Linked DNA regions of Homo sapiens. The protein of the gene in region 1 purifies or fractionates together with the protein of each later gene. This does not show direct contact. Each region holds a gene or a part of one and is shown on either strand. Other genes may lie near its edges. The genes, in order: HS1BP3 and PDXDC1.

Region 1 (14,985 bases):
ATAGTGTCTTGTTATGTTGTCCAGGCTGGTCTCAAACTCCTCAAGCTGGGCTTAAGCAATCCTCCTGCCTCAGCCTCCCAAAGTGCTGGGATTACAGGTGTGAACCCCCACGCCCAGCCACACAATTTTAAGGGACATTCAACAACGTCATGAGAAGCGTCTAGAATAGCAATGCTGTTTTTCATTTGATTGCTCCTGTGGCCGACTCTTGGTGAGAAGCAACGTGTGATGTCAGGGGTGATTCTGGGCCTGCATTGCTCTGAGAGTGAATCTGCTTTACAGGGTGCTTTGCAGCTCCTGGTAATTTGACTTGATCCAGGTTGGAGCTCAATGCACCCACATTTTCAGAGACAGGAGCAGAAGAGGAGAGTATTTGAGCTTGATGTTGCGGGGCATGAAGGAGGGAGCATTCTGGGAAGCTTGGGCTTCAGCCGCCCAGCCCACTTGGTTCTGTGCAGAGGGCCGGCCTTACATGCAAGGTGTACATGAGGGTGTTTTAACACCTCCATGAATCACACTAGTGCCACTTTTTCCTAGGCAGTGACGCCCACTCCTCGTGGAGTGTGTGCGTGCAGGGGCTTGTCAGACATTTGAAAGTACTTGCGAGGGCAAAGAACTCCTTTACTCCCCATGGGATCTCAGGATGGAGCCTAAAGTTACATACCCCCAAGCCTGAAGTCTCTTTGATGTTTCATGAATTAACTCAAAGAATTAATGAGCATTTTGTATCTACTTAAAAGGGCATATGTGTTTTAATATAAACGTGTACTGATTTGCTGACCATGGAGTAAAACAGCCGCAGGAGGGGGCACCGCAGTGGAGGTTGTGCAGGCTCTTGGATGTGCTAGCAGTGCAGACACCCACAAGCTTACTAACGTTACAGGGCTGTCTGCCCCGTGCTCAGCAGTGCCTGGCACACGGGGGCACCAGATAAATGTGAGTTCTCAACCTTGAGCTTCCTCTGCTCAGGGTCTCTTACTTGGCCTCCTCTTGTTGCTGGTGCAGATGCCCACCCAAGAAGCCCTGCCTGAACCCCTGATGGACGTGGGCCCTGGGTGGGGTGGGAGCCCAGGCCTACAGCTCCGGAGTACTCACGATGCCAGTGCCCTGGAGATGGAGGTTCCCCGAGCCTGGATATGCTGGGTCTGTGGTCTGAGCCTGAGGGGAGCAGTCGGGCCAGCAGGGGGCGCCCGGCCCCCACCGTGGCCTGCTCTGCGGGCCGGGCTGGAGTCACAGCTGCTGTCGGAGCCTGTGTTAGCAATCGCTCTGGGAAGGGGTCCGTGTGCCTTTCCCTGAGGGCTGTTTTCAGGAAAGTCTGGAGCCAGGCTCTTGTGCTGACAACTGCAAGCAGCACCTGTCCCAGGTGACTCCCCACTGGAGGTTCTGAAATCCCCCCAGCTGCCTCCTGGTATCTTGACCCTTCACAGGCTGGGCATTCTGGGTGGTGTTGCTGGAGCCAAGGATGTGTGTTCCAGACACACCCTGCACCAAGGGATCTCCCCGAGCCCGAGGGCGTCAGATGCCCGCAGCCCCTGCACGCCAGCACTCCAGTGGCACACTGTGGGCACAGTCCGGGCCTGGGAGCATAAGAGTGAGTGACCCACACTTCAGTCGGGGGAGACAGGCCCAGTCTATGGGGAAAGCACAGAGGAGCGAGGAGTGAGGGTAGGTGCCAGGATGATGGTGTGTGCATACAGCAGGTGATAGAGGAGCTAGGAGTGAGGGTAGGTGCCAGGCCGATGGTGTGTGTATACAGCAGGTGACTTCGCTGAGCACCCACATGGTTACAGACACGGCGATGGCACTGAAACCACTGTGAGACTGAGAGCCTGCTGGGGTGTCTCTGTACAGAGTGAACATGCAGCAAGAGCTCCGTGAGTGAAGGGGTGAAGGCTTAGCTGCCCAGGAGCTGTGGGGAGAGGCCAAGGAGGCAGCGGGAGTCAGCCGCTGGCCCCACGGGAAGCTGAGTGCTGCCCTCTCTGAGTCAGATGGTGCTCAAGGCTGCCTTCTGATGACAGCAAGAGTCCTGGCCTGCTTGACTCGGGTGCCTGCGTGCAGAGAGGTCCTGCCTGACGCAGGGCAGAGAACAAGCCTTGGAAATATCTGTCTCCACTGCTTGCATTGGCTGGCCCGCCGAAGGCCACACTGGTTCACGGGAGAATGAGGTTGGTGCTGAGAACAGATGATTCACGGTGTTGCAGGAAGATGACCTGCCAGCCGGTGAGATCACCCTCCTGATATGCAGAAAGCTGGGAATGAACACAGTGGCCCTGATCACGTGCAGGCTGGGCAGGGGTCCCTGTATCAAATCTTGTTAACTGGACCTGTGACAGTGTCCAGAATGGCACCGTTATTGCATCTTTCCTCTGGGCCACTAAGATGTTTTTATTGAATCTGCTATCGGCCAGGCGTGTTAAGGACTGGAGCCTGAGGCTGGGAGACAGGCAGAGGGGCAGCAGGCGGGCGTACCTGGCACACTTCCTTTGGCTGCTGGGCCTTGGGAACCCCTGGTCGGGGTGAGAAAGGAGCACTGCCTGCCACTCTTCACTCAGGAAACCACATGCTCCTCTCATTCCAGGTCTCCAAAAAGTACAGCGAGATTGAGGAGTTTTACCAGAAACTGAGCAGTCGTTATGCAGCAGCCAGCCTCCCCCCACTACCCAGGAAGGTCCTGTTTGTTGGGGAGTCTGACATCCGGGAGAGGAGAGCCGTGTTCAATGAGATCCTGCGCTGTGTCTCCAAGGATGCCGAGTTGGCAGGCAGCCCAGAGCTGCTAGAGTTCTTAGGTACCCAAGGCTCTGCCCCATGTCCCTCAGGTCTCCCCGGCCCAGAACTAGGCCCCGCTGCCGTGCCCCAGTGGGAGCATGTCCACAGCTGCCTCTGCAGCCTGGAGGCTTCAGCCAGGCTGGTGAGGCAGGTGGCCTCGCTGACATCCTTGGCTGGATGGTGGGCAGAAGGAGGCCTACCCTTGAGGGACTGAACGTCTGGCTGTCAGGTGGGGGCTCACACAGCAGGCATTCTCCATAGTGTGACCCCATCCATGGCCTTCCTGGCCAGCCCCATTCCTAGAGCTTGCCCGACACCCCCCGACTGACCATGCACCACATACAACCCCCTGACACACACCCCACACTCCCCTCTGCCTCCTCCAACCAGCCCTAGGGACCTGCAGTATCCCGGGAAAGCTGTGTTCTCACAGCCTGGCTGGTGACCTGCCCCTGGGGACATGTGCTTCTCACCTGTGCCCCCACAGAGAGGGTCATGGGGACAGCTCCGGGCTGAGGAATTGATCCAGCACCCCTGCCCCCAGTGGTGGAGACGTCAAGCCCTTCCCATGGGTGTCCTGGCCCTGTCTTCTCTCCTCAGTTTTCTCATCTGTAAGGTGGGAGTAGCCTGGCTGATAGGCCGTTATGAGAATTTACAGAGCTAACACATGCAAAGTCCTTAGAACAGAAACAACCACAGTAAATAGTGGCTACAATTTTACCCCACTCCTCGGTTAGTCCTGTCAACCCAGAACCCCCGTGGGGCAGGCCCTGGTCTCACAGATGCCCCCAGGACAAGGCAGGTTCTCACCACTGCTGGTGCCGGACTCCCACCCCTTCTCCCCTCTTTACATCCGTCTGCTTAACTCCTTCCCAGCTACTGTGGATCTCCTAGTTCCACAAGACAGAAGGGAAGTTTTCAAAAGAAAGTTGACCGTAAATAAAACAAATTATTTAAAGTGAAAGGTGGGGAAGAGAAGCAAAACTGGTGAATGCGCAGGCCTAGGACTGGACAAGCTGCACAGCCCCGGTGTCCTGTGGCCATGTTGGGCCCCTCACATGGGTCTGGGTTCTCTTCTGCCCTTGTTGTTCCAAGGTCACAACCCTTCCTTCCTTGCCTGTCTCTGGGGCTGGGTAGACTGTGCCAAGAGGTTCCAGCTCAGCCATCGCTGGAAGAGATGCTCAGGATGTCCCAGCCCCTCTCTGGTGGAGAGGCAGGATAGAAACACAAGCTGCTCTATGCCTCACTTTGCTCATCTGCAAGATGGATGTACAGTAGGGATCTCTCTCATAGGGCTTTTGTGATGTTTAAATGTAAGATGCTTATGACATGAAATTGAAGGTTTGGGAGATTTTGAATGGCTTTTCACATTTGTCCAAGTAAAATAACAGAGCATCACATAATACGATATCGTCATTATCACTCAGTGCATCCTGTATGCCAGACACTCTCTAAGTTCTTTACCTACAAGGTGATTTTATTAAAAGTCAGTTGTTTTAAACTACCCAGTAAGCACTTGGATAGAAATGAACAAATAGTCTGAGCCCACGCTTCTCAAACTATCTGTGGCAAGGGCTAGCTCTTTTATTCCCAGCCTGTCACAGATGGATACTTTCACAAATACAAAAGCACACTTGGGTATTGTGATGATGGCAGCATGCTATGAAGTTTCTGGATGCTTGCTCTCCCTTTCTCTACTTACCTCATTGTGGTCACACAGGGGGCATTCTCTGTCTGAAGACCACACTTCAAGAAGCGCTCATCTAAGCCAGTTTGTAATGGAGTGATTACCGTTTGTTCTGGAATCTTCCACATGCTTACCCTGGGCACCCATCCAGTCCACAGTCCAGGTGCCCAGACTCTCGGGGCAGGTCTCTGTCTGCAGAGTTCCTTGCCGTGCCTCCAACTGTAAATGGTTCTGGCTGTACTGGTTCTTTTTGAATCACCCTGTGCCCTGGCTGTTGTATCCCACCGCTCACCCGGGAGGAGGGTGCAGCCATCCCTGCGGCGCACACAGGCTCTGGGCCTTGGGTTCAGGAACCGCTGCCCCTGTCTTGCTCTGAAGCTCCCACTTGTGACCACTCCACTCCAGGCTTCCTTGGTGCCCGTCAGCCCTTGGGGGGCTGCAGCAGGCACTTGGCTGCCCCCGAAACGGAGGTCACCTTCCATCCACCCAGACTCGCCATCCTGCTTAGGTCCCAGGAGGGACGAGTTTGGTCCCAGGAGGCTGCAGGAAGCCCTCGGCCTCAGATCCTGGCATGGGAGGGTGCAGTGTGGCAAGATGCCTCCCCTGGCTCTGGGGTGGTTACCAAGTCCATTCTTTTCTGTCTTCCTCCACAGGTACCAGATCCCCAGGGGCTGCAGGGCTCACCAGCAGAGATTCCTCTGTCCTGGATGGCACAGACAGTCAGACAGGGAATGATGAAGAGGCTTTCGACTTTTTTGAGGAGCAAGACCAAGTGGCAGAAGAGGGTCCGCCCGTCCAGAGCCTGAAGGGCGAGGATGCTGAGGAATCCTTGGAGGAGGAGGAGGCGCTGGACCCTCTGGGCATTATGCGGTTGGTCTCCTGTTGTTGAGAGGGCCCCTTTGGTGTATTCCAGGCTTTCTGGAGATGACGTCCCCCTTCCCTGGAATCTGAGAAAAGCCCTGAGCATCCCAGGTCGCCCCCTCGCAGGGATCTGGGCCACGAGGCCTTGGCCTGGTGTGTTGGGGGAAGTAGCTCTCTGCGTGCCCTTGGTGGTGTGCATGTCTCTGGGACTGGGCTTAGGTGTCGCCTCCCTTCTCGGGTCACAGGATGTCCTCCACTTGTGGCTCCGCACTGGGGCTTGGTAGAGTCCTCCGTGACAGCTCAGTAGTGCAGGCTGCGGGCCTGTCCGGCTAGTGTGGGAGGACTGGGTGCTCCTTCCAGCTGTGGGACTCGCAGAGGTGGCTGCGGCTCTCTGGGCTGCATCATCTGCATAGCAGGAGCATTCACCTTGGCCCTGCCTCCACACAGGGCCATTCACCAGCCATACATCTCTGGCCATTTACAATCTCTTTTCTTCGGTTTTCCTCAGTGAAAATGGACTCATGGTCGTATCAACCTCTTAGGGCTCCTGTGACGATGAACTGAGTTATGTAAATTTAGCAATCAGCTACCATCATGGCCCCATCTTTCAGTGGAATCAGACCAGGCCAGGGGTGCTGTCCTCCCCGCTCTCTACCACAACGAATGTCTCTTAGCCGTTTACCAAAGCCCTCGGGCGCCAGATGAGTGTAGGTCCTGCCGCAGAAAGGAATTAGAGCCCAGTAGAAATTAGGCAGAAGCAAGTTCAACTTCATCAGCATGTAGAATTCTCTCCTAAAATCACAGCCCACTCTGGAAAGGCCTTCTTCGTGGGGAGGGTTATGGGAGGGTGGGCTGCAGGGTGGCCATGAGACCAGCGTCCAGGGGTGAGGATTTGCACTGGGAAAGGGTACGCGGCGCTCAGGGAGCTGCAGCAGAAACAGGCCTGAGATCTGGGGTCCTGCGGCACCTGGGCACAGCAAGTGCCCTGCAGTCGCTCCTCCTGGCCCTCCGTGGCTGGCCTTGTCCCTGAGTGGGGTCAGCGGCCCTGAGGGAGAGGCAGCCAGAGTAGTGGGTGATATGGGGACAAGCCTGTAATAGTCACTCCTTATCAGCCTGGCCCAACGCGGCAGGCCTTTCTTGGGCTTTATTTTGGTAAGGGTGAGGCTTTGTTTGAACTCACATTCTCTGTTGTTCTGAGTAACCACACGTAGTGCCAAACCGAGATGGACTTTGGTGGTCTGTGCCAACCTTTGGCTGAAGAACACACTTAGCCGAGCGGCTCCTTTTTTGGGTAGGAAAATGTTCTTTGTGGCTGGCAAGTGCTGCCTTGAACTTCCTACTTACTTCATTAGCAGATTGTCAGGGGAGATGTGTCAGCTATCCTGGGACCCCTTGGCGGGGCGGGGGGGGCGGGGGCAGCCCCCTCCCCAGCTCTGTACTCTGGGGCCCTCACCCCTGAATCCTGGGAAAGCTTAGCACCTAAGAGTAATCCTGCCGGCTTAAGACCCTCCCCTGCTGGGGTTTCTTTTTAAGGACCCGTGTGACAAGGTGCTGATGAATCAACGTTATCACCTCTGTCAGGAATAATAAGTAAATTTTTTGAGAGTTTATGAAATGCTGGGAACTAAGTTAGCATTTGCTTGCATGATCTCATTATATCTGTAAGACAGCATTTCTGAAACTACTTGCTACAACCCATAGTAAAAACTATATGGTACGCCATGACCCAGGACACACATGTATAAACATCCCATAAAACTGAAGCAAAAGTTCCCAGAACTCATACAAAACCTTACTAAGTGTATTGTACTGGGATATTTTCTATTCTATTTCAACGTTTGGAAAGGTCATGACTCGCCAAACTGCTTTCAGGATCCACTGTGGGCACAGGTCAAGAAACGGAGCCCTGGAGGCCTGCACTGGCATCAGCCTCTTCTGTGTGGTGGGAAACTCAAGTTCAGGGTCAGGTGGTTCGTCCACGTTCCTGCAGCCTGCAGATGGCAGAGCCAGGACCCCACGCCATCTCCAGTCCAGTCTTTATCAGCCTGGGAGGTGGGCAGGGCCCCAGGATTATCCCCCTTTCACAGATGGTAAAATCGAGGAAGGAGTTGAGCAGGATCTTGGCCAGAGCCGTGTGTGTTCCAGAGCTGTGTGTGTGGCAGAGCCGTACCTTGAAGTTGGGTTTCCACCTCGGCCTTTCACAGACACCCAGGTGGGCTTGTTGATCTCTCTTGGTGCCACCCACCTGCCCTTTGGTGGGGGACTTTCTGTTCTTCTCGGGAGGCTGTTTGTGCACCCCTCTCCCTCCCGTGCGCTTGGTTCCTGTGCAGATGCAGCGGCACCCGTTTCCCAGCTTGCCCTGCCCCATGTCTGGGCTTAGCTCTGGGCTCTCCTGGAGCGGCCACCATTTCCATGCAACCAGCCTCGGTCCTTCCCCGCCGTGGCCGCGGCGAGGCGCTGCTGCTCTGCTGAAGGGCTGCTCCACGGCAGGGCTGCTGGGAGGGTGGGAGTCGCCAGCACAAAGCCGGAGCCCAGGCCGGCCTGGCTTTTCTTTGTCTTTTAAACCTGGTTTTGATTAGGGACAAGAGAGCGTTATTACACCATTAGAGAGCAATTAAAGATAGAAAAAGCCCTCACCTCGGCCCATCCCAACACCACCGCTCTCTCCATCTGCTGGGGCTCTCTTCTGACCCCGTCCCAGCAGCATCCATGCAACCGCAGGCACAATGCACGTGCCTTTTCGTACTCTGCTTTTCCACCCTATGGTCTGTCCCGATTGCTGCTCCATGTCGCCCCTGTTTTGTATTTAAGTTTCTATTTTAGAATGTCACGGTGCTGAGAAAATTGACATTCTACCCTAATAGTTCTGCCTTATGCTGGAAATCCTCTGCGGGAAACCTTTTTCATTGTGACTCAAATAACACACAATTAGTATAGAAAAATTGCAAACACAGATAAAAGTCCTTTCCCTGTGAATTTCTGAATGCACCTTTGAATATTCACATCTTACTGCCAAAATGAGATTGTCTTGTGTGCCGTTCTGGAATTTGCTTTTTTCCAGCTTACATGTTCTAGGTCCTTCCAGATCAATAGCTGCACTCTCCCTCCTTCCTCTGCTGGTTTCTCAGCTCGATGGGCTGTAAGTGGCATTACCAGGCCCTTGCTTGTGGGCGTGGCGGGGTTTTCTGTAGGTTTTTGCTATTACAGGCAATAACCTGAGGAACTTCTACATATACAAAGCTTTTATTCTATGGAGCCTTCCCCTATATACGTGCCCCAGAGCAAGGTCCCTGAAGCTGCTTCTGGGGGCTTTGGGGTACCATTCCAGTAAAAGGTTCTCTAAGGGCTGAAGCCCCTCTGTTGGGAGGCCCCTCTGCTTTTCTAAGCCCTGCCCACCCCCGCCCTCAGGGCCCACTCCTCCCACCTCTTCTTTTGCACACAGGGACCCCCTCCAGGCCCTGGGTCCCTGAGGACTCACAGCGTCCTTGGGACAGGCTGGCTCCTGTATGAACAAATGCACCTGCCTGCAAAGCTGGTCTTCCCAGACTCCCTGGAAGGGGGAGCCCACACCCGGGTCCCCGTGCTGTGGCCTCCGTGGTGAAGCTGGATGTTTCTCTGGAATGCCACGTTTTATGGTTGTTTTTTAATATGGATTTTGCTTCATCTTTCATAAAACAACCACATGTATTTTAGTATAAAAATAATATCTTACTCTATATTTGGATGAAATCACTTCTCTGGAATGATTCTGTGGTTTTGAATGCTCCTGGCACATTGCCAGGTGCTCCCAGATTTGCTAACCCAAGATTTAGCAGCAAGACAGTCCCTTAAGGTGAGCCGTGGAGGGGAGCTCTGTGGGGACAGCAGGGCCTCAGTCCCACCTCCTGAGGTGCCCTGGAGCTGCTTCCCCGAGGGTGCCTCTTGCTAAATATCCCGACCACTGCGCATGGGCCTGGCACCTCTTTGTTCATTCCAGCCTGAGCCTGGGCACCCAGGGCTCCCCTGATGCCACCAGTGCAACAGAGACCACCTAGGGATTCTGGGCCACTGAAAGCTTGGCAGAGATAGAGATTCCAGGCCCCCCTCAGATCTGGGTAGGGCCCCCAGAATCTGTGTTTTAACAAGCTCTTGAGTTGGTTCTTCCGCAAGCTCCTGTTTGAGAATTCCCAGAAACCAAATTCTGTTAAAGTGTTGGAAATGCCAGAAAGGAAACAGGTGTGGAGAGTGGCAGGTCAGCCGTCACCACAGTCTGCCGCCCACAGGGGGCTGAGGACAGGGCGTGTCCAGAAGGCACTTCCGGTACTGTCTGCTCCCCAGCAACTCCTGCTCGGGCTGGGCTTTCCCTCGTCTGCTGACCCACCTGCTGGACGAGTTCTCTGCTGTGCCATCCTGGGGTTCATGTGGGGGCCACGAGCCAGGATGGCTGGGCCCGACCTCACCCTGCACCTGTGCAGCACTTAGCCCTGGCCTGGCTGGGGACCCAAAGCCATAAGGAAAGGAGGAGGCAGGTGCCACAGCTGCCCTGCAGCGTCACGCAGGCGGCACTCCACCCAGGCTGTCACAGTGATCACAGCAGCACAGTGTGCATGCCAACTGCATTTCCCCATCCAGATTACTGCCGTGGCCGGACGCAGCAGCTCACGCCTGTAATCCCAGCACTCTGGGCAGCTGAGGTGGGCAGGTTACTTGAGATCAGGAGTTCAAGACCAGCCTGGTCAACATGGTGAAACCCTGTCTCTACTAAAAATACAAAAATTAGCTGGGTATGATGGGGCACGCCTGTAATCCCAGCTACTCAGGAGGCTGAGGCAGGAGAATCGCTTGAACCTGGGAGGCGGAGGTTGCAGTGAGCTGAGATTGTGCCACTGCACTCCAGCCTGGGCAACTGAGACTCTATCTCAAAAACAAAACAAAACAGAAACCAAACAAACAAAAAAACAGATTACTGCACAAAGTCCTGCCTGAATGAATGGGCTGTTAGGAACAACAGATGTACCAGTGGTTTCTGCTTTTTAAATTCAGTAGCAAAACCTTTGGCTCAAGAGAAATATCATCCAGAATCCCAGTACATAAAACAGGCTGAAGTAGGATTTCCCCTGGTTGGGACAAGTGAGGACTGGATCTTTGTCCCTCCAGCCTCAGCCCCACTTCCTGGGGTAGCCCTGGGCAGCTTTGCAGAAGGCGAGGGCCCCTTAGAGTATGGTTTGACAGTGAGTGGGGCAGCTGGAAACCCCCAGGATGTGTGGCTACCCCCAGAGCAGGGTTAAAGATGGGCAGTCCCAGGTTCAAATCCCCTTTCTGCCACTCAGCTGGCGGACGCTGAGTGCGTTGCTGTACTTCTCCAAGCCTGTTTCTTTCTTTGTAGAGTAGGGGTAAAGTAGAGGCCCAGTGGCTGAAAGGATAAAATGAGATGGAGCACTACAGGAAAGTTCCTTTGTAAAATGTTATCACTATTTCAGATTCACTTTGCTCTAAAGAGGTCTTTGTGTATTTAACCAACAGTTGAAATATGAATATAAAAGGCAGCTTTTCCACTTCCTATAGTTGTTATGCAAATATCAGTCACTGTGATGTGCACACTATGACTTTACCTCCCTCCAGGAGCGCCGGTACACCTGTCACCTGTTACAGCTTCCTAGAGCAGGCGATTCTGGAGGTGGGGCAGCCCCTGGCCCTGGAGGAAGGAGCCTGCTTACCTGAATCCTTAGTGGGATTCAGTGGTTGCTTGGTTCCTTGAGAGATAGAAATCTGGGAGGTCACACTTGCCATTTTCCCGCCTCAGGCTCCCCCAGGACCCGTTGTGGCAAGTTCTGGCAAGTAACAACACTCTTAGGATGACAGAGCCTTTACGCTCTGAGGACTGCAGATCAGATCCAGGCTCTGTTGTTACGACTGAGGAACCTTCCCAGGATCACACAGGAGGGCATGAGAGCAAGAGCTGGGGGTCTCCTGACTGCTGGCCCAGGACTTTTCCCTTTTTCCCCAGGCCATGTCCAACACTTGTGCCAGGGGACTGACTTCTCAGCCCTCACCTGTTCACTCTCGGTTTTTGATGACATGGGTGATGGGCATTCCCCACTGCAAGGACAGCTAGCTGTCTGCTGGTCGTGTCACCATTTGGAGTGGATCAGGGGCATAGGAGCGCCCATGTGAGAACCAGCAATGGTTGTTTACTCAGAGCTTACTGCGACCAGGGAGGTGTCGGCCACCATCACCTGCATTTGGCAAAGATGCAAAGAGAGGCAGGGGAGTGGGACACTTTGAAGCAGATGAAAGGGAAGGCTCAGATACACGCTGATTGGAGGTTATTGGCATGGGGAATCCAGAAGCAGCCAATGAGAAGTGGGGCATCCTTTGTCCTCTGTGAGCAGGAAGTGGGGCATGTTTGGCTTTCTCTGGATGGTCCTACTAAACTGGAAATGGGGAAAAATTTAGGAAAGCTGGCAGTTATTGATCAAATCTTGGCCATTTGGGGCTGACTGCTGCAGAGGCTGTGGTCTGGCTTCCTGGGCAGGTTACTGCAGACTGTGGGTCAGAGTTCCACCTTTACATGTGGCCTGGCCATTGTCCCTTTGTGTATTCAGGCTCTTGGGGGTACTGGGCGCTTGCTGTAGAATGTAGGCTGCAGAGACCTGCAGCTGGGACCCACGTGGTTCCCTGGTGGTGCAGGAGCCAGGATGGGTGAGGGGCAGTCTCTGGCCCCATTGTGGAGAAGGAAAAATGGCATCACCCACAAGCTCAGGTGGGATTGTCACTGAGTCCTGGCCCCTCAAGATAGGGCTCAGTGGCCAGGAGAGTGGGCTCTGGCTGTTGAGAAACAGGTCCTTGGAATGTGACTCTGGGGACCATAGCAAATGATAAACGTTCATGGTGACCTCCCTGGCTGGCCCCTTTTTTTTTTTTTTTTTTTTTTTTTTTTTTTTTTTTTGAGACAGGTTCTTACTCTTTTACCTAGGCTGGAGTATAGTGGTGTGTGATCTCAGCTAACTACAGCTTCAACCTCCCAGACTTAACTGATCCTCCCACCTCAGCCTCTCAAATAGCTGGAACTACAGGCATGCACTACCATGCCTGGCTACTTTTGTCTACTTTTTGTAGAGATGAGGTTTCACTATGTTGCCCAGGGTGGTCTTGAACTCCTGGACTCAAGTGATCCTCCTGCCTCGGCTTCCCAAAGTGCTGGGATTACAGGCATGAGCCACTGTGCCTGGCCTGGCCCCATTTGCTTTTTAAGGCCCAGAGTGAAGTCTGCTGAGTAGAAAGCATAAGTGAGCCTAGACATCACCAGGCAGCTCCCAGGACCCCAGACCTCTGCCACGGCCCTGCGCTGACTTGCATCCAGGACCCACTTGGCAGCTTGCGAAGCATTTCTGTGTCATTTGCCTCCTTCTTCCCTTTGACCTCCAGTAAGGAAACATGGTTGGGGAAGTTGAGTGACTGGTCCAGATCCTATACAAGTTCTCCTACATCCCCCTCTGCTGCTCCTCTCTCAGCAAAGGCCAGAATCTCCCCAGGCCCCACTGGAGGTGGCCAACAATTCCCACAGACCCTCCCTCCATGCACCTGCTGCCCAGCTATTGGGCACTTTCACTATGCCAGGCTCTGCACACCTTGGCATTTTCATGGGCTCTTCTCTCTGCCCGGAGCACAGCTTTTGTGACTCTGCTCGTTTTTCCATCCTGGCCTTCTCTGAAGCCCCTGTCCAGTGAGGCTGGCTTGGACTCCCAGGGTTAGTGCCTGTCCTCAGGTGATTCTCACTCTTGTGATTGCTTCTCCAAGGAAGCCCATTGCTGTTGCAAATAACATTGTCCTGGTGTGAATTTCAGAAGTCCATTTATTGGTACTCTGAGAATTTTCTCATTGAAAAAATAAAACCAGCCAGGCACAGTGGCTCTTGCCTATAATCCCAGGACTTTGAGAGGTCAAGGCGGGAAGACCACTTGAGCCCAGGAGCTTGAGATCAGCCTGGGCAACATAGCGAGACTCCATCTCGACAAAAAAATTATTTTTTAATTAGCCACGTGTTATGGTGTGTGCCTGTGTCCCAATTACTAGGGTGGCTGAGGTGAGAGGATCACTTGAGCCCAGGAGGTCGAGGCTGCAGTGAGCTGTGATCATGCCACTGCACCCCAGCCTAGGTGACAGAGACCCTGTCTCAAAAAAACAAACAAAAACCCAAAAAACAAAAAGACACCAAACAGCTGAATTTAAGAATAAAGTATGAAAAGTGCATTAGTTTAAAGCACGCAGTTTGCATCATTGGCAAGGAGGTGGATTTCCGTATTTGGTTAAGCTGCACCCTGGCTTTGAAGACTCATGCTGTCCATGTGTCTCAGTTGTGGAAAGATCAGCAGTCTTCTGTTCAGACCCAGTTAAGCTGGCTGTGTCTAGGAGATGCCTCTGCCATGCATGTACACCCGGTGCTGAGCAGCTGGTGCCCATTGGTGGTCTGCTGTGTGGGTGGGCACATCTGGGAATGGTGCCACAGGCCCCCTGGGTGGCCAGAGTGGTGGATGCTCTTATGTGTCAATCACTGTCACCAGAACTGCCTGAGCCACAGGGAGCCAGGCTGCTGCTCAGCCTGTCTGAGCATTGGAGCTGTCAGCCGCGGCAGCTGCCGCCTCTCACCCCGTATGCTGCACGCCCGCCTGCAGAACATGGCCTGGTCTGCGCGTCTGTCTGCCGTCAGGAATACACAGCAGGAAAGCGGGTGTCTGTCCATGCACACATGTGCATGCAACAAGAACATGCCAGCACATGCCTGCAATCCATCCAGGAGCACCCCACCTACCTCATGCAACCTCTGTGGGCCCAACTCATGTTTTGGTGGCCCTCATGGCCTGCACTAGTTCCAATGAACCCTGTGCTCACCAGGAAGCCAGGAGCTGCAGTTCCAGTCCTATTCCCTGCAGACCTCTCTTTGAAGCCCCTTTTGCCCCATCCCTGGTGACAAGATTCTAATCATGACCAGCTGTCCTTCCAATGAAGGGAGAAGAGGGCACCCTTCCTCCATGTCAGTGAGGGGCTTTGTCTCCTGTCAGTGCAGAGGGCGGGCTGGAGGGCGGGCACTGCAGAGCCAGGCCCTGCGCCTGCAGACAGCTGGGTGGATGCTGATATAGGAATGGAGGAGGAGGAGGACCAGGGAGGAGAGGATTGAGGGGGCCCCCGAGTGATAGCCCATGTGTGCGACCTGACCCGACTCCATGTTCATGACAACCCTGAGGTGTTTGTGCTAGGAGAAGGGTGAAGAAATGGCTCAGAGACTGAGTGACGCACCTGTCATGGAATTACTGACCCCCTCACTGAGATCAGAAACCTGTCATCACCTTAGACAATTCCCTTCTGTCAGCCGATCACCTTAACTGTCCAGATGTATAAGCACGTTTGCCTTCTGAAGTTCCCCCTAGCCTGTCTTCCCCTCGCACCACCGCTGCTCTCCTAGTCCAGGCTCTGGTCATTTCTTCTATGGACCATGAGCAAAGCTTCCCTGGAAAGAACTGACTCTCAGCCTGTTCCCTCATGGCACTACGTCTGCTGCAAACCTAAGGGGTCCCCTTTCACCAAGAGGAATCTGGGTTCCCAGTTATGTCCTAGTCACGCCCGCTGCAGACCCTCACAGTGTGACTCTCAGGTCCTGTACCCAAGATGCTATTTAACTCCATTCCACCAAG
Region 2 (14,985 bases), on another chromosome or scaffold:
TTTAATAATAATCCTCTGAAACGTGAAATGAATTACTTAGTGTCTACTGCAAGCCAGGCTCTTGCAGACACAAGGCTGTTTGGGGACAACAGTCTAACCTTCAAAAGATGTGTAAGAGTGTTCTGTTGGGAATGGCAGCTGGCAGAGCAGCATATATAAGATGGTTATGTTCACGTTTTTTAAAGTGTGTGTATCCTTTATACCTATGTTTTTGTACCTAGAAAAATACGTAAATTTATACCTAGAAAATATCTGAAAGGTTATGTATTAAACTGTTAACGGGGTGGATTGGTGGCTTATAGGGTAGGGGGCTAGGCATTTTCACTTTTAATACCTGTATTTTTTTTGAGGATTTGTTTTACTTGGGTGTCACATTCATAATTTTTAATCCTTTAAGGAGAAAAATGTGCTTATTAAATTTTTGGTCTCTGAATGCTACCAAGTCTTAGTCATACAGAACAATATGCTGCAACTGTTTACAATTCCTAAAACTGTAAACTCCTCAAGGACTTGGAGGCTAAACATGAAGAATATAAAATTAAGTTGACAATCACTGTCTCCTGCATAACACTGACTTCACTTCTCTTGAGAAATGTGCATCTGCTAATCCATATTTATTACTTTTTAGGGGTGGGTGAACCCATAAATAAGATACTGTTCTTTGAATGCCTTTAGCTGGTGTTATTTACCAGTAATGCTTGGAGAAAGAATCCAAAATTACCCCCACTAAAATGCTCACGACCCAGTTGTTTCTGTGTTTGTCAAAGTGTTTCTGGTATATTCTAGAATATACCAAAGATAATTACTTGAATCATTTAGAAAATTTTACATTATATCCTCTTATAAGGCACTTGGAAATTCACCCTTTTTTTTTTTTCGGCTTGGCTTTCTAAATGTACTTTAACATCAATTTATAATATTAAGAGTTCCTAAGGAGAGAGATTTCTTAGAAGAATAATCGTGTCTTGTCTTAGAGCCACAGCCTTTCACAATCTGAAGTGAATGGTGCAGAGAGCTTTCTTGTCAAGTCATATGTTTCTTCCTGCAGCTCGGCTTGCCCTTCCCCTGCTTGTGCCGTGTACCCTGTAACACTGTGTTTGGATCCCAGCATCAGATGGTGAGTTCTACTTTTGGTTTGTAAAATCATGTGGGATTGTGTTTTGAAACTGCCTTTCAAATGAAGTTCTTTTTGCTGGCCTCCAGATAATTAGTAACTTACTCATGTATTGCTTGGATCCTTACATTGTGTAATATATGCTTCTGTTAATATGTGAATGTCCATGAAGGTTGGTTGGTATATAGGTCAGGAGCACCTGGCTTTTAAGGAGTCTTGTAATTACTGTATCACCTGCTTTAAGTAGAAACATGGCAGCTCAATTAAGCACCAGAAATTTCTTCTGAAGCTCCTACTTTTAATGAGTTAGCACTGTTGCCTGGATTTATGAATGGGCAGATTTTGAAAATGAGGTTCTTCATTGTCATCATGGAATTGAGTTCTGCTTATTTTCAGACATGCAGGTGATAAATCTCTCCTTAATGATTCCAGAAGGAAAAGGAAGGGATGGATTTTAGAGTTTTTTATTTCTTTTGTCAAGGTAGTTTTATTTTCTAGTTCAGGTACATCAGTGAGTAATAGTAGAGATACATTCTTGGCTGTTTTAGGAGAGTTAAGAGAACATTTCATTTAAATGTAAATGTTTAAAATCAAAGAAATGTTCCTGCATATGTACAGTTTTTACCTTTAATTTTGTTTAACTGATTTTTCTAGTCTTCAAGGAAAACTATTTGATTTTCACATCTATGATGAGAGAAAACAGAAAAATTGTCAAGAGTAAGAATTGATTTGACATTACTTTTGAGAGTTATCTGCTTCTTTTGTAAGTCATAATTTTTCATTTTATAGCTTTTATACTGGGCACCTCATTTTTTAATGATTTGTTTTGGTTCCAGGATGTTGCCTTCCTGGAGAAACTGATTAAAGATGATATAGAGCGAGGAAGACTGCCCCTGTTGCTTGTCGCAAATGCAGGTAGGTAGCATGATGCTGAATCTACCATTTTGAATATATAGGAGCGAGGCTACGTCCTCAGCCTATAAAAGATAAAGTCTTAAGAAATGTGTGTGTACCACATGTTTAAGATAGTCCATATCCACATTGTAGCAAAAACTGTAATAGTAAGGTTGGCTCGTTAGATTTTTCTTTAATCGTTGGTTTGTTTTGGAAGTTATTTTATGTGTGTGTATACTTTTTCATTTAGATGGTAAATGCTTCTCTATCTTCTCCTTCATGTACTTCTTTTCCCTGTTCTAAACTGAATTTTATTTTATTTTTTTGAGATAGAGTCTCACTCTGTTGCCCAGGCTGGAGTGCAGTAGCACAATCTCACCTCACTGCAATCTCTGCCTCCCGGGTTCAAGTGTTTCTCCTGCCTCAACCTCCTGAATTGCTGGGATTACAGGTGCATGCCACCACATCTGGCTAATTTCTTGTATTTTTAGTAGAGACAGGGTTTCACTATGTTGGCCAGGCTGGTCTCGAACTCCTGACCTCAGGTGATCCGCCTGCCTCAGCCTCCCAAATTGCTGGGATTACAGGCATGAGCCACTGTGCCTGGCCTGAATTTTTAAATGACACATTTAAGCCAGGTGTGGTGGCACATGCCTATAGTCCCTCTACTCAGGAGACAAGCAAGATGTTGGCTTAAGCTCAGAAGTTCAATACCAGTCTGGGTAACATAGCAAGACCCCATCTCAATAAATAAATAAAAATAATTGTACTGACGTTGTAAGATTGTTGTAAAAATTAAACAAGAAAATTCATAAGATGTCACACTTAAATATCTACCTTATAGGCGGCAGAGCAACTACCACTTGCTGCTCCATTTATCTCATTCAGCATCATACTTGAAATCTAAGACAGTGCAATAAGGCAAAAAAAATAACTGACAGATTAGAAAGGAAGAAATAAAACTTTGTTTGCAGGCATGATTGTATAGATAGAAAACTAAAGAAAAGCTACTGGAACTAATGATCAAATCTAAACCATTTTCTGGATTTTTACATACTAGCAAAGAAGAATTGGAAATTGAATTTTAAATGTCATTTATAATAGGATCAAAAAAGATGAAAAATTTATGGATAAATTTAACAAAATATATGCAAGATCTGTACATTGAGAACTAAGAATGTTACTGAGAGAAATTCAAGAAGACCCAAGAACGATATGCCATACACACGGGTTGGAAGACTAAGTATTAAGTCAGTTCTTCCCAAACTAATCTGTAGATTCAACTTGATCCATCTTAAAATCTCAGCAGGCTACAATTTCTTAATAGAACTTGATGAGCTAATTCTAAAGTTTATATAGAAATACAAGGGATCTAGGAACAGCCCAAGGGATTTTGAAAAAGAACAAAATTGGAAGACTTACCTTGTCATACTTCAAGACTTCTGTAAAGTAGCAAGTAAGACTGTGTGAGATTAACCAAAGAAAATAGAGAATTCAGAAATAGACTCATGTGAAGTATATGGACACTTCAGGTTTTTACAGATGCCTGAGTAATTCGAGGGAGAAAGGACCATCTTTTTCCATCAGTGGTCTTAGAGCTTGGATATCCATATGGAAAAAAACTGAATCTTAACCCTTATCTTATTCTCTGTATATATAAATATTAACTATAAATGGTTCATCAACCTAAGCATAGATCTAAGACAATAAAATGTCTCAAAGAAAATACAGGAGATCTTTGTGACCTTAGGTTACATTTCTTAGGATACAAAATATGTGAACCATAAATTGTACTTTATCAAAAATTAAAAGCATTAGCTGTTTGAAAGCCCCTATTAAGAAGATGAAAGGCAAGTTACAGACTGGGAGAAATATTTGCAAAACATTTTTTTCTTTTTTTTTTTTTTTTTTTGTCTTTTTCTATTTTTATTTTTTATGTTTTTGAGATGGAGTTTTGCTGTGCTGCCCAGGCTGGAGTGCAGTGGTGCGACCTTGGCTCACTGCAACCTCCGCCTCCCAGGTTCAAGCGATTCGCCTGCCTCAGCCTCCCGAGTAGCTGGGATTACAGGCGCACGCCACCGTGCCGGGCTAATTTTTGTATTTTTAGTAGAGACGAGATTTCGCCATGTTGGCCAGGCTGGTCTCAAACTCCTGACCTCAGGTGGTCCACCTGCCTTGGCCTCCCAAAGTGATGGGATTACAGGCGTGAGCCGCCACACTCAGCCAGCCACTGTCCCAGTCCTGTCTTCTTTTAAAATTTCTTTTTCATTCTTTTCCCCAGAAGCTACAAAACATTTGTTTGACAAAGAACTTGTATCTAAAATATATAAAGAACTGTTACAACTCAATAAGGACACAAGCAATACAATTTTTTTTTTTTTTGGAGATGGAGTCTCATTCTGTTGCCCAGACTAGAGTGCAGTGGTGCGATCTTGGCTCACTGCAACCTCTGCCTCCCGGGTTCCAGTGATTCTTCTGCCTTAGCCTCCCGAGTACCTGGGATTACAGGCATGTGCCACCACACCTAGCTAGTTTTTTGTATTTTTAGTGGAGATGGAGTTTCACCGTGTTGGCCAGGCTGGTCTTGAACTCCTGACCTTAGGTGATCTGCCTGCCTTGGCCTCCCAAAGTGCTGGGATTACAGGTGTGAGCCACTGTGCCCGGCCCACAATACAATTTTTTAAATGAACAACAGATTTGAGCAGATACTTCATCAAAGAAAATGAAAATGTATAGCACTTGAAAAGATGTTTAACATCATTAGTCATTAGTGAAATGCAAATTAAGATCACCATGAGACATTACTACATGTCTGTTAGAATGGAGAAATTACAGGTGGCTCACACTTGTAATCCCAACACTTGGGAAGGCTGAGACTGCGAGATCAATTGCCCTCAGGTGTTCGAGACCAGCCTGGGCAACATGGCGAAACCCCTAGGAAATCTCTACAAAAAATACTAAACATTAGCCAGGTGTGGTGGTGTGTACCTGTAGTCCCAGCTACTCCAGAGGCTTTGGTGGGAGGTTGGCTTGAACCCAGGAGAGAGAGGTTGCAGTGAGCCAAGATTGTGCTACCATACCCCAGCCTGGGTGACAGAGCCAGATCCTTTCTTAAAAAAAAAAAAAAAAAATTCTTTAAAATATAATGTCAGGCCAGGCACAGTGACTCAAGCCTGTAATCCCAGCACTTTGGGAGGCCGAGGCGGGCAGATTACGAGGTCAGGAGATCAAGACATCCTGGCTAACATGGTGAAACCCCGTTTCCACTAAAAATACAAAAAAATAGCTGGGTGTGGTGGTGGGCACCTGTAGTCCTAGCTACTTGGGAGGCCGAGGCAGGAGAATGGCATGAACTCGGGAGGCAGAGGTTGCAGTGAGGTGAGATCGCACCACTGCACTCCAGCCTTGGTGACAGAGTGAGACTCTGTTTCTGTAAAAAATAAATAAGTAAATAAATAAAACTTGCCAGGTGTGGTGGTGGGCACCTGTAGTCCCAGCTACTTGAGAGGCTGAGGCAGGAGAATGGCTTGAACCCGGGAGGCGGAGCTTGCAATGAGCCGAGATTGTGCTACTGCACTTCAGCCTGGGCGACAGAGTGAGACCCTATCTCAAAAAAAAAAGAAAAAAAAAAAAAAAGGCAAAAAACTACAGTGACAGAAGCAGATCAGGATTTTCCAGGGCCAGTGAGGAGTCAGGGAAAGGGTAATTATATTGGGGTTGATGGGATTTGGGGGTTGATGGAAGTATTCTGAATCTTGATTGTGTTGATGGTTACATGCTCTATATATTTGTCAAAACTCATTGGACCGTATACTTACATGAGTGAGTTTTGTTGCATGTAAATCATACTACAATAGGCCGAGCATGAGAGCTCATGCCTGTAGTCCCAGCACTTTGGGAGGCTGAGGCAGGCAGATCACAAGGTCAGGAGTTCAAGACCAGCCTGACCAATGTGGTAAAACCCCATCTCTACTAAAAATGCAAAAATTAGCCAGGTGTGGTGGTGTGCACCTGTAGTCCCAGCTACTTGGGAGGCTGAGGCAGGAAAATCGCTTGAACCTGGGAGGTGGAGGTTGCAGTGAGCCAAGATCGCACCACCGCACTGTAGCCTGGGCGACAGAAAGGGTCTCTGTCTCAAAAAAAAAAAAAAAAAAAAAAATCATACTACAATAAAACTGCTTATTTAGGCCGGGTGCGGTGGCTCATGCATGTAATTCCAGCACTTTGAGAGGCCAAGGCGGGAAGATCACCTGAGGTCAGGAGTTCAAGACCAGCCTGGCCAAAATGGCGAAACCCTGTCTCTACTAAAAATATAAAAATTAGCTGGTTGTGGTGGCAGGCACCTGTAATCCCAGCTACTTAGGAGGCCGAGGCAGGAGAATAGCTTGAACCCAGGAGGCTGAGATTGCAGTGAGCCGAGATTGCGCTGCTGCACTCCGGCCTGGGCAACAGGGTGAGACTCTGTCTCAAAAAAAAAAAAAAAAGACAAAATAGAAAAACCACATAAATATTCACTTTATTGCCAACAGGAAAACCATCACTTCCTGCCTTATTGTTTAAAAACACAAATTCACCCATATTCAATCACATGATAAACTGGAGGGGCTGCAGTTTGCATGTGACTGAGTGACTTGCCAGTGTGATTATGTTGCAGATGTCAGCAGACACATGTCAAGGGTTAGTCACCAGACATTGCCAAGAAATACGAAAAGAGAATCTGCATGCGATCCAGGCACTAACACAGCAGTACGCTTTTATTTTGCTGGAAGAGCCTGTGGCACAGCCCATGCATTGACATTTGATCTTGTTTCAGCTAAACTAAATGTGTCTGTTAAGATTTTTTTTTTTTAATTTGAGGTAGATTTAGGTATGAGGGGAAAAAGTTTTCAGCCCTTTTCCTGGCATAGACCTTACAAAAGAACTACTTTCTTTAGCTGTGTTTGTTGAGGCCGTTGGTGAGTGTTTGAAATCTTTTTAGTTGGCTTACTGCTAACTGGAAATTTAGGACGGTTGGGGGAATGCCTGACTCAACGTTTTAACTAAGCTCTCTCTGAAAAGGGATCTCCCCAGCAAAATCTGTAGTGCAATCAATTACCAAGGGAGCGGCTGAAAGTGCTTAATATGCTTAAGCTGGCTTCAGAATGCATGTTCTGTATTACAAGGAACCTGGGTGGAAACAAAACAAATTCATCTATATGTTTTGTTTGTTTGTTTTTTGAGCTGGAGTCTTGCTTTGTTGCCCAGGCTGGAGTGCAGTGGCACGATCTCGGCTCACTACAAGCTCTGCCTCCCAGGTTCACGCCATTCTCCCGCCTCGGCCCCGCGAGTACCTGGGACTATAGGCGCCCACCACTACACCCGGCTAATTTTGTTTTTGTATTTTTAGTAGAGACGGGATTTCACCGTGTTAGCCAGGATGGTCTCCATCTCCTGACCTTGTGATCCACCCGCCTGGGCCTCCCAGAGTGCTGGGATTACAGATGTGAGCCACTGTGCCCAGCCCACCTATATGATTTTTATAAAGGGCATATCTAAATCAAAATAATCCAGGAAGTGACAATAAAATAAAAAGGTGGAAAAGTTTATCTTGGACAAATGCTGACAAAATGAAAGTACCATAGCCATATTAGTGTGGGATAAAATAGACTTCATATTGATGAAAGATGTAATCTCCTAAAAGAAATAACAGTTATACCTGCTGGGCACGGTGGCTCATGCTTATAATCCCAGCACTTTGGAAGGCCGAGGCAGGTGGATCACGAGGTCAGGAGTTCGAGACCAGCCTGGCCAACGTAGTGAAACCCCGTCTCTACTAAAAATACAAAAAAATTAGCCGGGCGTGGTGGCCACCGCCTGTAATCCCACCTACTTGGGAGGCTGAGGCAAGGAGAATTGCTTGAACCTGGGAGGTGGAGGTTGCAGAGTTGAGATCATGCCACTGCACTCTAGCCTGGGCGACAGTGTGAGACTCCGTCTCAAAAAAAAAAAAAAACAGTTATGAATGCTTGTGAACATAACTTTAAAATATATAAAGGAAAGCTAAAGGAAAAGTCTGATGTAACACAAGTATATATTGACAAACCACAATCTTGGTGGGAGATTTGAATATATTTCTCATGAGTCAGCAGATCAAGTAGATAGAAAATAAGTATATAAAAGAATTCAATGACACAATTAGATACATGTAATAGAGATTACATACTCTTCAAAGCTTGTAATAAGTCAACTCACAAACACTGATTTTAAGTCCTTCCACAAAGAAAATCTCAATAAAATAGGGATATAATAAGTCACTTCCCTCCTAGGGCGATAATGTGTATAAAAGTGTTTAAGGTATAAAGCCTTAGAAAACATTTGTTCCTTTTAATGCCCTGATGTGTTTTATCCTAGGAACGGCAGCAGTAGGACACACAGACAAGATTGGGAGATTGAAAGAACTCTGTGAGCAGTATGGCATATGGCTTCATGTGGAGGGGTAAGCCGGCGGTGAGGCTGGTGGCTCCATTCGGGCCTGCACAGAGTCCTTATGAGGACTGGACATCCAGGCTCTCACTTTGGTGACATTTATCACGAAGGGCTCTTTGGGTCACAGATCACAAAATAACCCAAATTGGCTTAAGCCCAAAGAGATCTTACTGGCTCACATAACTACAAAGAGCAGTGTTATGACTGCCTCAGGCACGACATCAACCAGGATCCAGTGTGTTACTCCCACCTCTGCTCCCCCAGTCACAGGCACTGGGCTTGGTTTCCTCTATCTGTGGACAGATCTTCCTGTTACAGTGCAAAGTAGCTGCAGAAACTCCAGCCTTCTTTCCAGCTTCGTGGTCAGCTGGAAGTCCTAACAGAAGTCTCGTATTGAACCAGCCACTGTGGCCAGGGAGAAGTAATCCTCTGATAGTTGAGGTTCTTTGCTCTCCTCTGGAGCAGATAGTGGTGTCTCCTCCCCACAAAGCTCATGTTCTGCTGGAAGAAATGGAGATGGCGCCCTGGAAGGCTATTGTAGGGCCATTAAGAGAAGCAGGGGGAACGGACGTGGGCAGCCAGAGTAGCCCATATCCACCACATCATACAGGGAGGTTTCTTTTTGATCCCTAAGTAAAGAATGATAACTGGAAAATAAGATCCATGAAAGAGAAGAATACTCCCATTATATTAAATGAGCGGGGATAGTTCCTGAGACACATTTTTATTAAAGTGCATTTTCAGGATTTTCCTTCATATGTATAAAGCACACCTTCTGTTGCTGTTAATGAAAGCTAATAACATTAAAAATATACTTAAGTGTCAACTTGCAACAGCACAGCCTTTATTTTTTTAAGTACATGGTGAGTAAGCAACATTAAATAATTAGTTCTTGGACTGGTGTTTTTTCTTCCAGTGTGAATCTGGCAACATTGGCTCTGGGTTATGTCTCCTCATCAGTGCTGGTATGTTGTTGATTTACTGAATATTGGTGTTTTTAAGAATGAATTTAAAGTCACTCAGTCCCTCATGGCTCTTCACAGTTTTTATGAATGGAGGAGGGTGTTAGGTTTGTGTATTCTGATAATCTAACAAAGAGTTGTTCTTGTTTTGGTAGGCTGCAGCCAAATGTGATAGCATGACGATGACTCCTGGCCCGTGGCTGGGTTTGCCAGCTGTTCCTGCGGTGACACTGTATAAACACGATGACCCTGCCTTGGTAAGTTTCCACTCACTGGGGAGGGAGTGGGTGTGGCTAATACACATTATTGGCTTTGGGGGCAAAATCCAGAAAAATACAGGAAAAAGTGAAAAATACCCATAATTTCACTTCTATTTCATTTTTTTAAAGAGAAACTTGTGAGACTTTTTTTAATGACATTTTATGATTGTATAATATTCTGTCACAATTTAATTATTCTCCATTTATGAACTTATAGGATGTTTTCAGAGTTTTGTTACTGAAATAATGAAGCAGTGAACGTCTTTCTGTGTTTCTAATTATTTCCTTAGAATAGGTTCCCAGATGTGGAATGACTGAGTGGGGGAGTTTTAAGCCTCCTGATCCACATTGCCCAATAGGTTTTAACTTTTTTTTTTTTTTTTTGATATGGAGTCTCGCTCTGTCACCCAGGCTGGAGTGCAATGGTGAGATGATCTTGGCTCACTGCAACCTCCACCTCCTGGGTTCAAGTGATTCTCTTGCCTCAGCCTCCCAAGTAGCTGGGATTACAGGCATGCGCCACCACGCCCGGCTTATTTTGTATTTTTAGTAGAGGCAGTGTTTCACCAAGTTGGTCATGTTGAACTCGCGATCTCAGGTGATCTGCCTGCCTCGGCCTCCCAAAGTGCTGGGATTACAGGCATGAGCCATCACACCTGGCCACATTTTTTTTTTTTTTTAATCGTAGTTGTGGGCCAGGCATGGTGGCTCATGCCTGTAATCCCAGCACTTTGGAAGGTTGAGGCAGGCAGATCGCTTGAGCCTAGGAGTTTGAGACCAGCCTGGGCAACATGGTGAAACCTCATCTCTATAAGAAAAAACAACAACAAAGAATTAGCTGGGCATGGTGGTGTGAGCCTGTAGTCCCAGCTACTCATGAGGCTAATGTGGGAGGGCTGATTGAGCCCTGGAGATCAAGGCTGCAGTGAGCTATGATCACACCACTGCACTGCAGCCTGGGCGACAGAATGAAAACGAAACCTGTCACAAAAAATAATAATAATAATGTGGTTCTTGATAATATAGGTCAGCGTGCAAAATAAGGTTTAAGTGATTTCTGCTAAAACACTGCTGTCTTGCTCAGCTAATAATGGCCAGGTGTTTGAGGATGCTCAGAGCTACCTTCGAAGTGGGGAGTCTCCTAGGTTCTGGGATGTGACCCATCTGGGTTTTCCACTGGCTTTTCCTGGCTTTGCCACTCCTGAGCTGTGAACCCTTGGACAAACCGAGGTCTCTGAGTGAAGTTACCTAGAATACTTAGCTCACAGAGTTGTTGGAAGATCACATGGATAATGCAAGCCTAGTGACTAGTATGGCATCTAGCCCACACTAAGTGGGTAGCAAATGGTAGCTGGTTAGTTCTATTATGAGATTGCAATGGCTTTGATTAATAAACCTCTTTTGGCTTTTTTAGACTTTAGTTGCTGGTCTTACATCAAATAAGCCCACAGACAAACTCCGTGCCCTGCCTCTGTGGTTATCTTTACAATACTTGGGACTTGATGGGTTTGTGGAGAGGATCAAGCATGCCTGTCAACTGGTGAGTAGAAGCCTGACATTTAAATGAAAGACTCCTTGGCCACAGCAGAGACAGAAAAACATCTCATTTCTGTACCTTCCATCCAGAGTGGTGTTGTCTGGATTGACTGTCTCGTGAGCCAGAGACTAATCGCCCTGCATGTAAATATTTCTTGTTCAAAGTTCTGGGAGAAAGTGCTGGGTTGTCTGTCCCAGCATTTGTGTGCAGATGAAATCAGATGAAAAGGAACACCACTGTCAGCATGGGATCAGAAAAGAAGTCACAGATGACTTCCAAGGAGTGGAGAAGGGTGCAAAAGGTGGAGGGGTGGGGAGCGAGTGTTCCCCTTGATTGACTGACTACGGTGAGGGAATAGGAAGGTTACAAGGTGGTTATGGAGGGCATGGATATTTTATAAACCAGCTGGCTTGGGTTTCCAAATTGCAGGGCTCTTGGGGACAATTCTAATTCTCTCTCCATTTTAGGTGTGTTCTAATTGTGAAAAATATATAATTATGCTATATTTCAGTGTTTTAGAGCATTCAGGCTTCTATAACAAAATACCTTAGAGTGGGTAATTTATAAACAACAGACATTTATTGCTTACAGTTCTGGACGTGAGAAGTCTCAGATCAAGGTGCCAGGAGATTCCATGTCGGGCCCGTTCCTCATAGATAGTGCCTTGCATGTGGCCTCACATGGCAGAAGGGGTGAGCACAGTCCCTTGAGCCTCTTTCAGAAGGTCACTAGTCCTGTTTGTGAGGGTTCCATCCTCATGCCCTAATGACCTCCCAAAGGCCTCAACTCATTTGCGATTAGGTTTCCACATAGGAATTTTGTGGGGACATAAATATTCAGATCATAGCATTTAGAAAGCAAAAAAACAGGCTGGGCATGGTGGCTCACGCCTGTAATTCCAGCACTTTGGGAGGCTGAAGCGGGTGGATCACAAGGTCATGAGATCAAGACCATCCTGGCTAACACGGTGAAACCCCGTCTCTACTAAAAATACAAAAAATTAGCTGGGCGTGGTGGCGGGCGCCTGTAGTCCCAGCTGCTCAGGAGGCTGAGGCCGGAGAATGGTGTGAACCCGGGAGGCAGAGCTTGCAGTGAGCCGAGATCGCGCCACTGCACTCCAGCCTGGGTGACAGAGCGAGGCTCCGTCTCAAAAAAAAAAAAAAAAAAAAAAAAAAAAGCCAAAAAACAGGGTCATGTTTACTCAGGGTTAGAGCTGAGCCCTCCCTAAGCTCAGAAGTGCGTCACCTCCATTTTCTTACCTGTGAAATATAAATTATATGACAAGGATTGCCAGGATGGCTCGAGGAACGAATACAGGTAGAGCTCTTGCAGTAGTGTCTGTTCATATAGTAAGTTATGCACGTGGGTTGAAATCTTTGTTTTAAATATATTCTTGGGGAGTTAGCACTTCCTCAAGTATCATTTCTATATTTAAGAAACATAGGTGGCCGGGTGCAGTGGCTCACGCCTGTAATCCCAGCACTTTGGGAGGCCGAGGTGGGCAGATCATGAGGTCAGGAGATCAAGACCATCCTGGCTAACACGGTGAAACCCTGTCTCTAATAAAAATACAAAAATTAGCCAGGCATGGTGGCGGGTGCCTGTAGTCCCAGCTACTTGGGAGGCTGAGGCAGGAGAATGGCGTGAACCCAGAAGGCGGAGCTTGCAGTGAGCCGAGATTGCGCCACTGCACTCCAGCCAGAGCGAAACTCAGTCTTTTAAAAAAAGAAAGAAAAATAGGCCGGGCGTGGTGGCTCATGCCTGTAATCCCAGCACTTTGGGAGGCCGAGGCGGGTGGATCACCTGAGGTCAGGAGTTTGAGACCGGCCTGGCCAACATGGTGAGACTCCGTCTCTATTAAATATACAAAAATTAGCCAGGTATGGTGGCAGGCGCCTGTAGTCCCAGCTACTCAGGAGGCTGAGGCAGGGAGAATTGCTTGAACTTGGGAGGCAGAGGTTGCAGTAAGCCAAGATCGTGCCACTGCACTCCAGCCTGGGTGGCACCATCTAAACACACACACACACACACACACACACACACACACACGAAAAGTATTTGCGTAGTGCTCTAGCAGTAGTCCCTTCGTTCATCATATGTTAGGATAGTTCAACAGTTTTAAGTATGCTCTGGGCTGGGTGCAGTGGCTCATGCCTATAATCCCAGCACTTTGGGAGGCCAAGGCAGGTGGATCACTTAAACCTCAGAGTTCAACACCAGCCTGGGCAATGTGGTCAAACCCTGTCTCTACAAAAAATACAAAAATTAGCCAGGTGTAGTGGCACACACCTGTGATCCCAGCTACTCAGGAGGCTGAGGTGGGAAGATCACTTGAGCCCAGGAGGTCAAGGTTGCCGTGAGCCCAAATAGCACTACTGCACTACTCCACTCCAGCCTGGGCGACAGAGTAGGACCCTGTCTCAAAAAAAAAAAAGAAAAAAAGATTGATGCTCATTATGTTTACAAAAGCACTGCATTTTTTGAAAAGTGTCTCACTGTGCTATTAGCTCACTTCTTGAGATGTGGTTCTTAGGAAAGAGAAGCCTTAGTAACTTAGTTTAGAGACGACTTGGGCACTCGGGAGATTTTTTCAATATCCCGTGGCTATGGAGTGCGGGAGAATGATGCCATTAACTACCAGACCCTTGAGGTCAGCACAGCTCTGGCATCTTCCTGCAGGCAGAACCGTATACTCCTGAGGATTTGAATGCTGTCCTGCTGCTGACTCACAGGCTAATAAATGCATGTGTTAAATTACTTGGACATTTAGCAGACATGGTGATCTGTATATAGCCATGCCTTATAGTCCACAGTGGAGCATACATTTCCTGAGAGCGTAAATCAGCATTCGCCTCCTCATCCTCCTCTTCCTTCTCTTCTCCCTCTCTTCTTTCTCGTCTTCAGTAGTTATTGAGCATTCACCTCAGTGTCAGGCACCATGAAGTACTTTCATGCATCATCTCATTTGATCCCTGCAACTTCACTAGAATGTCAGTTCCACTGATGACAGTGTATTCAGAATTAATTTTCTTTAAGAAAACAAAAAGGAATTTCTTGAGGGGCTTTCTACTGTCCAGTACTCAGTGAATATCTGTTGAATTAATATACTCCAATCCCATGAGTTAGATATGATTAGTGATGAGGGACCTGGGATTGAGACATTAGTCTAATGACACTACATTCTAGACCCTGTTTCTAAGCACTTCCTGTATTGCATATCAACTCATTTAATCCTCACAGCAATGTGAGATACATACTATCCTCCCCATTTTATAATTGAGGGAACTGAAGCATAGACAGGTTACATAGCTGGTGACTGGCAGATGAATTGACTTATCCGTGGTCCTGCAGGTGATGAGTGGCAGCACTGTGCTCTTATCACCAGCTCTTGAGCGTGCTGCATCCTCTCATTTGTCGTTGGTCTCCCCTAGTGTTCAGTACTGTGCCTTGCACGTGTTTATACTCAGTAGCTTTTGAATGACAGACTTACATTGCAAATACAACAGATTTCCATGTCTTATTAGAAACTGCTTTTCTTGAATTACTACATGTAACTTGAAGGATTGGTGAATATTTACAGTTGTTGAAATACAAAAACAGGTGGCTGAACTTAGAAACCACCAAGTGGCAGGTGACTTTGCCTGACATCCGTGTTCACAGACCTCCACAGCCCCTGGTGAAAACCACTTCTTCATGTCCCACGTCCATCTAATTACATGTGTTATTTTTTGTCATTTGCAGAGTCAACGGTTG

What was found.
Region 2: the proteins of HS1BP3 (region 1) and PDXDC1 purify together in Homo sapiens (affinity purification with mass spectrometry; 2 studies listed by BioGRID and IntAct, with this or other methods). This does not show direct contact.

The regions. Positions count from the first base shown.
Region 1 is NC_000002.12:20,628,774-20,643,758, reverse strand, and holds part of HS1BP3 (HCLS1-binding protein 3), read left to right. Parts: intron 1-2,578; coding exon 2,579-2,786; intron 2,787-5,106; coding exon 5,107-5,323; intron 5,324-5,329; exon of another isoform or gene 5,330-7,526; intron 7,527-8,756; exon of another isoform or gene 8,757-9,043; intron 9,044-14,985. UniProt on the Homo sapiens protein: May be a modulator of IL-2 signaling.
Region 2 is NC_000016.10:15,007,731-15,022,715, forward strand, and holds part of PDXDC1 (pyridoxal-dependent decarboxylase domain-containing protein 1), read left to right. Parts: intron 1-1,048; coding exon 1,049-1,117; intron 1,118-1,950; coding exon 1,951-2,029; intron 2,030-2,590; exon of another isoform or gene 2,591-2,667; intron 2,668-8,398; coding exon 8,399-8,483; intron 8,484-9,389; coding exon 9,390-9,438; intron 9,439-9,590; coding exon 9,591-9,692; intron 9,693-11,109; coding exon 11,110-11,235; intron 11,236-14,973; coding exon 14,974-14,985.